2 linked regions of the Homo sapiens genome follow. The protein of the gene in region 2 purifies or fractionates together with the protein of the main gene of each other region. This does not show direct contact. Each region holds a gene or a part of one and is shown on either strand. Other genes may lie near its edges.

Region 1 (5,221 bases), on a different chromosome or scaffold from region 2:
GATCTGGGTGTGTCTGTGAGGGTGTTGCCAAGGAGATTAACATTTGAGTCAGTGGGCTGGGGAAGGCAGATCCACCCTCAATCGGGGTGGGCACCATCTAATCAGCTGCCAGCGTGGCCAGAATAAAGCAGGCAGAAAAACGTGAAAAGAGAGACTGGCCTGGCCTCCCAGCCTACATCTTGCTCCGTGCTGGATGCTTCCTGCCCTTGAACATAGGACTCCCAAGTTCTTCAGTTTCGGAACTCGGGACTGGCTCTCCTTGTTCCTCAGCCTGCAGACGGCCTATTGTGGGAACTTGTGATCGTGTGAGTTAATACTTGACACACTCCCCTTTATATATCTATCTGTTCCATTAGTTCTGTCCCTCTAGAGAACCCTAATACAGCCAGGCTCCCACTGACCCCCTTGTCTTGGTGCCCTGGCAGAAGGCAACAGCAGGAGTGTTTTCCCATGCCAGCTGCTGTAAATACTGTTCAGTCCCTGCACCCCAGCTTCCAACACAAATTCTCAGAGCAGTCACAGCAGCAAGAACGTTTATTATAAAAATAGGTGAATAAAGTAAGTGTGCTTTAACTTCCGGCTGGATGACAAATGCTACTGAAATGCAGTTTCTCAGTGCAGACATGTGGCTCGCAATGGCGGGGGTGGCCACCCTAGTGTGACGTGCAGCCGCAATACTCCATTTGACTGGTTCGAGGCAGAGAGGCGACGCTTTATTCCATAGAACAGGATGGGGCTCCCACCCTGGGGACCATACAAGTGACTCCCTCAGGCAGCCACCCCTTTCTAGGCAGGCTGGGGGAGGGGCTGGCACACCAGCACCAGATAGCTCTGGCTTAAGCCTGATGGAGACACAGACTGGGACCTCCCTCTGCCAGATGTTCCTGACCCCATCTCCACCTCCAGCCTCCAGCCTCACTGGCAGTTCCCTGTGACCCAGCCTGTTCCATAGCCAAAGGGACCAAAGTGAACGATCAGAGTGCCCCGCAACTATTCTAGGGGCCTTGGCTCTCAGTAGAGCTCAACCCATGGCATCTGAGAGCACCCACCCTGTCCCTGAGGGCAGCTGCACCGGGCCAGGAGGCCGCAAGGGCACGGGTGAGTCTCGGTCACTGGCAGCACTCAGCCACATGCCTGAGGAGCTCTTCCCCTTGCTCGTCACTGAAGCACTGCAGGCAGTGAGGGCACTGAAGGTCCCCCTGGCCTCTCTGGGCCGCGCCAGGATGCCCGCCCTCTGCAGGGGGTTCTGGCTGCTGGGACCCAGTCCCAGGCCTCCAGCCACCAGGCACCATAAGCTCTAATGCGTCGGCGGCCAAATACTTGGCAGTTTTGCTCCCAGCGTGAATCCGGCCGGCGTCTGGCTCTCGAGAATCCTGGAGAAAAGGCAAGGGTGTATATACGTGGGCTGTGCTGACGGTCACAAAGCCAGGTCTCAGGTTCCAGCAACCAGAGGCACTTCACCTATCCCTGAGCGGAACTTCAGCCCCTCACTTTGCTTCCTGCTGCGCCCCAGAGCCCAGACAAGGGGGCGCTCAGTGAATGACTGAGGATCACACACACGCTCCGTCATGTGCTCATGAAGAAGTAGGCCCTGGCGTGGTCCACCCCCCAGCCCCTTGGTGGAAGTCCTGTTCAGTTGGACCTATCGGCCCCAGGAGACCTGACTGAGAAGGTGGCCCTGATGACGTGGCCCACAGGCCACCACAGAGTGGAGGTGGCAGAGCCTCTGGTGGGGAGCTGGGCAAACTGAGTACCAACCCTACTCTGCACCTCCTCTGTGGGGCCTGGGGGTGCTGAGCACTCTGGGGCTCAGGGGGTCCTTCAGTAGCAGCAAGAGGTGTCCCTGGCTTGGCCCCACCAACCACCTGGCATGATCTGGCACATGTTCTCCAAACATCCGTCCTGAAGCACTGCAGCCTGTGGCCCTCACTGCTTGCCTGGGAACTTCATTCCAGCAGGCCTTGGTGCTTCCACTTCCTGTCTGAATGTGGACTTTCCCCAGTGGGACTACAGCTTATCACCCATGCCTTCAGCACCACTGTCCCTGGCTGTGCCATCTAGGGACTGAGCAACCCTCGAGGGGCCACAGGCTACTGTTGAAAGGGAACCAGAGGCCACTTAGTACAAGGTCTGCAGGCCCCACCAGGAACTTTACCCCCGGGGGTAAGAATCTGGGCCTGCAAGTCTGGAACCAGTTCATCTGGTCCAAAATCTTCAAGAGGCGGCCTGAGACCATCCTCACGATTGTACCAATAGTGCTCCTTCAATCCAAATCACATGCTTCCTTGAATTCATGAAGGCCAGAAAAACCTGTCCAGCCCTCTGCTGCAGACTTAGTCCCAGGGTTAGTCCCATAGTCCACCATGACTCTCCCGTGCCCTTCATGCGGAGGAGAAGCAGAAACCACTGAGGCCCAGTGGCTGCTCGGAACAGGGCAGTGGGGGGTGGCCTCACAGCCCCAGGGTCCCTGTTCACACCCTGAAACACGGCTGACGTCCTAGCTCCAGCCCGGGACGCATCGATTCTCAAGAGGCATCACTACTGTTCAGTCTGTGCCAGGAGAGGAAGCTCTTTGAGTGGGGCCCAGGCTATTCCCAGGGCCAAAAGTGTGTTAGGTACTTGATGAGGAGCTACATAAACTTCTCCTGGATTTTTGCAGAGCACAAGTCAGTGAGGAGAAGGAAGAGGCCATGGGTCACACACTGAGGAACTTCATCGGTTCCCATTCATGCCAGGCCTCCCTCAAGGCACCCCATGGTAGGAAAAGCACTGAGCCCAGGGGTGGGGTGAGGGGCCCCTGCCCTGCAAGGCCCAGCTCCACGTGCCAGGCTGAGCTGGGGATGTTACTGGACACCCAGGGCCATCACATCTACATGACAAGGTAAGCGGGGTTCCCGTCTCACAGACAGGTCAGGACACGTAGGGAGCTCACACTTTGAGGCCCGAGATATGCTCTCTGACTGCATGACAGTGACGGACGGGCCCTGAGGACAGCCACCTCTGCTAAGACAGGCCGCCATGCCAGCCTCCTCCATAACTAAACAGTATAACAGGGAGGCTTTCCATGACCACGCCCAGGTACCAGGCCAGGTGGCTCTCCCCACAGCAGGGAGGGGCTCGCCACAACCCTCATCACCAGCAAATCAGGGCCTTGGCAGACACAGAAAGGCTCTAATCTCATGAGAAGAGAAACAAAAACACTAAACCTAAGCAGGAAGAAAAACGCCCTCATACTCTACCTGTCTCCAGGACACCTGGTGCAGCAAAGAGGCGACCTTTTCCTCCAGTTCTTGAATCCTACTTTGAGCCCGTTCCCGATCGGCCCTTTCTGACATGAAGTCATCCTTGTAAGCGAGAATCTGAAGAGAGGCGAGACACACATTTCTGCTCAAGGAAGGAGGAAGCGCCCCACCAGGCTTCTCCCACCCCCACAGTGACCACTGCCCACTCAGTGCCACCAAGCCTTCAGCCCAGCCTGTCCCATGATTTCGGCCACCACCGGCCAGCAGACATCTGGTCAGTGCCGTCCGGAGCCCGAGGGACAGACACCTGCTGTTCCAGCATCTGCACCCGCTCCAACGCAGCATCCCGGGCCGTCCTGGAGGCCGCCAGCTCCTGCTTCACTTCGGCACAGTCATTTATTTTCTCTTCCAACTGTCTGTTGAGCCGGGAGATCTCCTTCCTCATCAGCTCGGGCTCGTGGGGGATCTGCAGCCCCCTGAGCTGCGCATGGAGCCCCCTCACGTATTCGTCCCTGCTGGCGTTGTAGCGCTGCCACTTGGCATTGAGGTCTTCAACCTGAAGAGGTGGAGCCGGAAAGCTCACGGTGAAGGCAGCTGACAAAGCTGCTCAAGCCAGCACCCAGTGTGAATTATGTATTAGCAGTGATTCGCTGAGTGAGAGTTTCCTCTTAAATGGAAGCTGCCCCTCCCTGTTCTGTAGAGAGCAGACACTAGGCCCGCTAGAGAATCCTGAGGCAGCACGATGACACCCGTACGCAAGCAGCATGAACGGAGGTGGACTCGGTGCAGCTTTGCTGTCTTAGAAAATGGACCTCCTGCTGCTAACTCTTGCATCTCCTTTACTGACTTGTGGATTAATTTTAGGGGGATGGAGATGGACAGGACATGTCCCGTACGTCGTTTTAAGCAAAAAAGTCCAGTCTCTAGGGACTGTGTGTATCAAGTCCTAGTGGCCAGAGGGCGGGGGGCGACTCTGGGCATCAGCCAAGGAAAGAACCCTCACTTACAGTTTGTAAGCCATGTGTTCTTCTCAAACGAAATGTGAAAGACACTCACGTGAGTCACCTTCTGTTTTAACAGTCGATTTTCTTCCTGCAACTTCTCAATAACACTCTGGACAGAGGTGTGCCCATCTGTGTGTTCCGACTGCATGAGGAAGGGACAGAGAGAAGACACTCTGTCACATACAGCAAGAGGGGAGAAAGCTAGACCCAGAGGCTGAGGCCACAGATTATCACTGCGTCCCCCAGTGCAGCGGGTAGTGATCATTCATTTGGTAGAGAAGCAAAGCAGGGACAAGGGACCACCTTCTCCCTGCCCAGGCCCACCCCACCTGGCCCAGGCCAGAGCCCGGATGGGAGGTCTTCAGGCCACACCACCTTTCACACTGTCCTTATCCCGTCCCACCTACCAGTTTGAGCTGTTTGTCTTTTAAATATTTGGAATGTAAATATTCTAAAGCCATAATGTCTGCAGGGATTGGCACACCAGACATGATAAAGTCTTCTCATTGCCAGAGATTTGCCATTATCACAGACAGCAGGGAAGGCAGGAAGCTGAATCCCATTGTAAACCAGAGGATCTCCAGTGAGGGGGCCCCCAGCTGCCCAGGGTGGGCCTGGCCATGCACCCTGCTTACCTCCTTTGGAGCCCATGACACTGTCCTGTCTGCAGACAATCGGGTTCAACCAGGTGATTCTGGACACAGGAATCTAACCTCTGCCCCACGCAGGGTCAGGAGTCACCGAAGCCACAACCCAAACCAACCCCCACTAACAACTACAGAGCTGAATGAAAAGTCTCCTGAAACTCGTGTGTACCCTACAATTCTGACTGTATCTCAGTGACATAATTTTTGAGAATTCCCCTCAAATGACAAAGGAAGTGCACGTCCTAACACAGCCTACACCGGGAAGCCCCGGGTGACTCAGCTGAGTTCAGGGCTGAGAAGTGACACTTATTTAGAGACTGTGATGAGG
Region 2 (7,124 bases):
TTTTTCCTTGTCCATGAAAAAAAAGTTGTGTGTAGGGGGGAAATAACCAGCATCAGTACAGCAGCTGTTCTTAGTTCTTGACATTACCGTGTCCCAGACTCTTTCATTCAATTGTATTTACTCCAAGGAGTTTTTGTTTGTTCTGAACCATTTTGCTGAGTATTGTTGCTGTCTTAAGAACAATGAACTCCCAGACCCACATGGTTTCATGAGTGAATTCTTTCAGATCTTCAAAGAGCAGAGTTCTTAGGCTATTTAAACTACATCAGAGCGGAGGAAGAGGAACTCTGCCCAGTTCTTTTTAGGAACCAGCATAACCTTGATACCAAAACCTAGCAAAAATAACAGAAAAAGGTGAGTATAAAATGAATCTCAATCATTGATTTTAAATAAAAATGCTACCAAAGGAACCAATATATACTTAAATATTACACCATGACCAAGCGTAAGATTGGTTCACAAACTGCAAATATACTAAAGTAATTCACTATCCTGTTAGGTCAAAGATGAAAAGTACCTATGAAAGGTTATGATAGATGTCAAAAAGCCATTTGACAAAATCCAACTTCCATTCCTGATAAAAATGTTAAGAAGTAATGAATATACACACCAAATGAACATCCAATATCTATTATTTAAAATTGTTCTCAAAGTGCTATCTAATACAATAGACACTCCCCATCCCCAGTTGCAAAAATGACTTTGGATGCAATCCAAACAGTTCTCTGCAAAAATCACAATGAGCTAGAAATATTAAAGGAAACTTCCCTGATAAATATAATTTATTAGATATTAATAGTAACTTCATATTTAATGATGACATAATAAAAACATCCCCAAACTAAGAAACAAGATAAAGGATGGCCAGAATCACTGTTTTATTTACCACTATTCTGGGGAAGCCAGCAATTCACTAAAGCAAAGAAAGAAAGAGATAAGATGAATTATAATTAGATGATTGTTTTCCTAGAAAATTCAAGTGAAACAATTTATTAAAATTAATAAATTTAGAAAGTTGGCCAGATACATAAACACTCATCTACATACCAGTCACAAAATATAAGAAAATATAATGGTTAAATCCCAAAAAGAGTATTTTAATGAAGCATGAACAGTTTATGTTAAATTTTATCTCAAAGATAATGCAATTATATTCAAGAAAATTTTGAAAAGGAAAAATGAAGAGGGACTTGTCCTATGAATTACTAGAAAACGTAATATCAAAGCAGATTGGTATTTTTAAAGGAAGAGACAAAAAGATCAAAGCAACAGATGAGTCTAAAGAAAAGATGCATGTACACTTGAGAATTTACTATATTAAGGAGGTATTTCTAGTCAGTTGGGAGAGAAATGATTTCAACAAATGATTTCAGGAAAAAATGGCTGCCTAGTCATAAAAACAAAGAAAAAAATTAAATCCTTATCTTAGCATACAAAAATCATTTTCAGATGTTTTAATGAGTAAATCATAAAAAGAGAATTAACAGGCAATATAGGAGAAGATTTTAAGAATTTTTGAGTGGGGACTACCTTCTTACCTGAGATAAAAAGCCTGGGCATTTTAAACCAAAGCATTGATAATTCTTGAAAATATTTGCCATATATTTCACAAAGGATTAATGAAATCTGTAGTCTAATGAGAAACAGATAATTTTGAAGAATACTGGGCAATATATACGGACAGGACATAGTAAGTGACAGTTAACTATAATTTGGTACATCTACACAATGCAGTACCACGCCAACATTACAATAAAATAGAGCTACATATGGCAAGACTTTCACCATATATATATATTTAATCTGAAACAGATTATCGAACAGTATGCATAATCTCATTTTCATAAGAAAGCAAAATAACATGGTTATGCACATACAGGAAAGATGTGGAAGGCTTGGATTACAACTGGGGAGAGGACTGAGAAGGATTTCACTTCCTGCTTTGCACATAGTTGTATTATTTGAGGATCCCTCCTCTCTCAAATGAGGACACAATAATTTTTAACAGAATGCACTGCTTGCTTCTCTGCTACCTCTCGTTTGGGTGTGTATTCCAACCGCGGTAAGAAGGCAGGTCATTTTCTTTTCCTTCAATTTCACGTCGCTTCTTCACTTCCTTTACTACCATCTCTCCCTTATTATAACTTGTCAAAAGCATCTCCTGTGAGGTGAGATAAACACCACTTTACATAGCAAGGCTGCTTTACTTTTGCTCGTTATAGCATAACAATAAAGGCACAGCTCTTCTTTGATTATCCTCCCCCTTTCTACTTCTAGAAAAGCACAGCTTTTTTGCCTGTAACTCGTTGCTAGTCAGTTTACACCGGCGTGAGGACTCTACCTAACGCCTGGGTTCCCACTGTGGGCGGGGTTGGCTTCTGTTCTTCCTGCCTTGGCCACCCACTCCCTCCGTGACCCTCTGGGAAGTTACCCAACTTCTCATTGACCAGGCTATGATGACACCCCACAGGAAGGCAGAGGGGAATTGTGCAACCACCTTGGGAAAACAACAGAAAGAACCAATTAAGTTTTCGAAAGAGTAACCACGATACTACTTGATTCTAGGAGGCAGTCTCTCTCCCGAAGGGAAGTCGGGAATGTTCCTGGAGGGTCCACTGCTCACCTCGACACCGCAGGCCCTTCCACCCCCATTTCCCGGGCAAAGCAGCCGGGACGAGTCCCTCCCTTGAAGCCGTTGGGGCAGAGGCCGACGATGCTATGCTGACATCGCGGGCCCGGAAACCAACCCACAAGGAGTCCGCTCCGGGGGAAGGACTCGCGTGGTTTCTCCCGCACAAAATCCCTCCCCAAACTGCAAATTGGTTGTCTCCGCTGCTCCTCGGCTTCTCTCCCTGCGGCGCCCCTACTGTCAGCGCGTCCCTCTCGCTCACGCATACAAATTCTCCGACGTCGTGCTTGACGGATTCGGACACACCAATTCACAAAGTTTCTTACTCACACAGTTCACGCTTTCAGCTGCGTTCCCTCTCCCCTCAGGTCGCCGGCGCCTGGCCGAGTGACTCCAACCGGAAGTTGCATTTTGTTCCAGTTCAGAGGGCAGTGCCTGCGCGCGGAGCCATTAACTCTTCACCTCCACCCAACAAGGCCAGGGCCCTTCCGCCCTGCCCCACCCAGCCCAGGGCTCTTCTGCCCCGCCCCTGCCCGCCCCGCCTAGCGCCCTCCCCCAGCCCTGCCCAGCCAAGTCCCCGCCTCTTAGAAAAAAAAAGCGTCAGCAGCGGAAGAGAATCCTATGTCAAGTGTAAAGGTCACTTGTGAGTCTTTGCTGGATTTTTTTGCCAAACGATAAATAACCGGTAAATAAATAACCAGTAAATAAATAACATCACCCTATATATGAGTTAGAGTACACAAGAATCACCTGAGAAACAAAATGTAGTTTCACCAACCGACTCCTACAGCTTTCATTTCAGAGCAACTGGAGTGAAGCCCAGGAACCTGCATTTTCAACAGATCCTCGTAAATTTATGTAATTAAACGTGGTTAAAGTCCACACTCTGAGAAACACTACATATACACATACCCATTTGGTTTCTCCCCAACTGGTAGTATTTTTCACTAAATGTATTTGTTAAAGAGGAATGGCTGGAAATGGAGGTGGAACTTTATTAGAAAATTTCCCATGAATTAAGACTTTCCCATTATTCCAATTCCTAGCCATGCATGAATATTATCTAAGATTCATATCTTAGATACCGCAAGAAAGATATCTTTTCCCTTTAGGGCAAGAGGATGAGGTCTGGCTGCCCCAATTTCTCCCTGTATTTCTGAATCATGGATGTTTACACATCTTTCCTTAGGCCAGTAAGTCCAAGGATTTAAAAACCTGCCAAGTTGCAGTGCATTCTGTCTAGTTATCTTGAATGTTGCTGTATACTTTTAAAAGTCAAAGCCTAAATATATTTGAAACAATGTTTTTAACAAACAGAAACTTCTTATATATAACGTTTTGACCAGTTGAATAGTTTTCTTGTAATAAGTAATTGAGTTAAACATCACAATACAGTACTGCTTTAAAAAAATTATTTAAACTTTTTTTGAGGGCAGTTTTAGATTCACAGCAAAATGGAAAGGAATGTCCAGAGATTTTCCATATACTTTCTGCCCCGACACAAGCATAGCCCTTCCCCATTATCAACATCCCTCACCCCAGTGTGATGAAAAAAAGCTGTTATAAATATCTGTGTGCAGGTTTTTTTGTGCGGACATAAGTTTTCATCTCCTTTGGATAAATACCAAGTAGTATGATTGCTGGATCATAAGGTAAGAGAATGTTTAGTTTTGTAAGCAATTGCCAAATTGTCTTCCAAAGTGGCTACCATTTTGCATTCCCACCAGGAATGAATAAGAGTTCCTGTTGCTCCAAATCCTTGCCAGCATTTGGTGTTGTAAGTGTTCTGGATTTTGGCCATTCTAATAGATGTGTGTCATATTTTATTGTTGTTTTAATTTGCATTTCCCTGATGACATATGACGTGGAGGATCTTTTCATATGGCTATTTATTTACCATCTGGTTAACTTCTTTGGGGAGGTAAAGGCCTTTGGCCCATTTTTTAATCAGGTTGTTTTCCAAATGTTGAGTTTTAAGTGTTCTTTGTATTTTTGATAAGTCCTTTATCAGATATGTCTTTTGCAAAAAATTTTCTCCTTGTCTGTGGCTTGTCTTTTTACTCTCTTGACAATATCTATTGCAAAGCAGAAATTCTTAATTTTGATGAAGTCCAGTTTATTCAGCACTGCTTGAGCAAATTAAATAAGCTGATTTGAAGATTTCTGATTGAAATAGTGGAATTTAGTAATATACTCAGAGTCTAAAGCTGAATGCATAGGCATTTTGAAATATGGAGGTGCTAAAAACTTTGAATAAGGAAATAGCTAGATATACACATTTCTTAAATGCGTATTTTTCTCTTTCCACTTCCATGATGTTGTAGTCTTGAAGAGAAGTGGCTGCATAATTCCCCTGTATGTGAAATATGCATAAATGCTGGTAGAATTATTTTGTAATCAATGCTAAAATGGCATCAAACATTTTCCTTTTCCTATAATGATGATTTTTTAAGAATTCACATACAGTATGTTTTACAAAGGTTAGAAATTGAGTTGACATTTATTTGAGGAATAATCTTTTAAAATAATGACATAATTTTATTCCAATTTTCCTTCACTCATATTATTATATACCTCAAGTTAGTGAGCAGTGATGTGGCTTTGGAGGTTGGGTATGGTGGCATGAAAATGGGGAACTGACCAGGTGTGGTGCTCACACATATAATCCTAACACTTTGGGAGGCCAAGGGCAGAGGATCACTTGAGCACAGGAGTTTCAGACCAGCCTGGGCAACATAGTGAGACCACGTCTCTATTTAATAATATTAATTAATGAATTATTATTAAAAGAAAATGAGGGAATTGCAGGCCTTTAAAAGATATTTTGGAACCTGGACGGGTGCAGTGGCTCACGCCTGTAATCCCAGCACTTCGGGAGGCCAAGGCGGGCTGATCACTTGAGGTCAGGAGTTTGAGACCAGCCTGGCCAACATGGTGAAAACCCGTTTCTGCTGAAAATACAAAAATTAGCCAGGTTTGGTGGTGCACACCTGTAATCCCAGCTATATGGGAGGCTGAGGCAGGAGGATCACTTGAACCCGGAAGGCAGAAATTTCAGTGAGCCAAGATCACGCCACTGCACTCCAGCCTGGGCAACAGAGAGAGACTCTGTCTCAAAAATATTTTGAATCCTAGTTTTAAAACTGCTTAATAATTTATTGAGACTTCTGAATATAAACCTAAGGACAAGGAAACCTGGCAATATAAACAGTTACTATGACTTGGAATGTCAGTTATGTTCTCAGTCAAATCTTTGATGTGCAATATCACTATTAATGGAATCTGGTTGACTTCTGATTTACGATGACATCTGGACTGGCTGATTATATTGCAGACTCTCCAACTAAAATGGCTATGAAAAATCAGAAAAACATGAGAACTCACAATGGCCTTGGAAGGCAGACTGACAACCAGGGCCACTGTGTATGGTTGAGCAGGCTGTGCTCAGTTGCAAAGCCTTGCCTCCTTCAGCCTGTGTCTTCTCAGAGAGGTGCTTTTTCTAACTCACAGAAAAGTACCATAAGAGCAGCTATAACCCTGTTGACAAGCACCCTAGTTCCAGAATTTGATAGGATACTGGACTTATTGCAAGAACTGTGAAGCTGAAATGGACATGTACTTTTTTGTTGGAAGGCAATCAAAGGTGTTGGTATGGAAGGATAGTAAGGAAGCTACCTGCCTCACGGCCCCTACTAGTAATTCCACTACTATGTGTGATGGCTAAGAAGTATTTTACACCTCTTTGCCCTAATCTCTCCCATTAGTTTCTCCACTCTATGACCCATTTTGGAGCTACGGCCTAGAGAATACCAGCAATAACCCAAAGGGAGTGGATAGGTGTAATGCTCTGTGTCCAAGCTTAGGAAACTAATAATGAAAGGGGTTGGGCAGACAGAACTGGGTGTTTGTTTCTCTGGGGGTTTACTTTTTCATATATGGTTCTTATCAAGAAAAAGACAAATCATTGTTTCTGATTAACCAGGAATTCTTCTCTTTATAGTAAAATAACTAGCTATTAAAGGTAAGGAATCTCACCTCAGCCCAACACCCGCAGTGACAAAGTTGATAAATGTCAGCTTCAAACCAAAAAGTTAGCTGTTGACTGTGCATGTCTATATGTCTTCCAGTTCAACATCTATGCTGAAGAACTTAATAGCATCAGACAGATAATGAGAAGAGCCAAGAACCAAAATCCACACATTCAGGTAGTAAGGTTGACACAAGGCTTGGAACGAGTAATTCAAGAGAAAGCATCCCTTTGAAAAGATTATGCTGTCTGAAAGAGAGTCTTCAAAATACAAAGAAAGTGAATACTTTGGAAAATTATTTACCAGAAGCAGAAGTATATGGAGAGAATCTGCTTTGTATTTTCTATGCAAAAAGAGATGAAATACATGATAAGCTATTAGACTAAGATAAGGAGGGAACTAGAGACAAGGTGAAATAAAACCAAAGTTGGATAAGTTAAGTCTGTAAGGACACAGAACAACATGCA

What was found. The genes of interacting proteins can lie anywhere in the genome.
Region 1: the proteins of TANK (region 2) and TNIP2 purify together in Homo sapiens (affinity purification with mass spectrometry; 3 studies listed by BioGRID and IntAct, with this or other methods). This does not show direct contact.

What each region holds. Positions count from the first base shown.
Region 1 is NC_000004.12:2,741,148-2,746,368, forward strand, and holds the end of TNIP2 (TNFAIP3-interacting protein 2), read right to left. Parts: intron 4,389-5,221; coding exon 4,299-4,388; intron 3,799-4,298; coding exon 3,550-3,798; intron 3,360-3,549; coding exon 3,240-3,359; intron 1,374-3,239; coding exon 1,110-1,373; 3' UTR 501-1,109; downstream 1-500. UniProt on the Homo sapiens protein: Inhibits NF-kappa-B activation by blocking the interaction of RIPK1 with its downstream effector NEMO/IKBKG.
Region 2 is NC_000002.12:161,156,322-161,163,445, reverse strand, and holds the start of TANK (TRAF family member-associated NF-kappa-B activator), read right to left. Parts: upstream 3,019-7,124; 5' UTR 2,960-3,018; exon of another isoform or gene 2,896-2,959; coding exon of another isoform or gene 2,624-2,895; intron 2,498-2,623; exon of another isoform or gene 2,159-2,497; coding exon of another isoform or gene 2,034-2,158; exon of another isoform or gene 85-2,033; coding exon of another isoform or gene 1-84.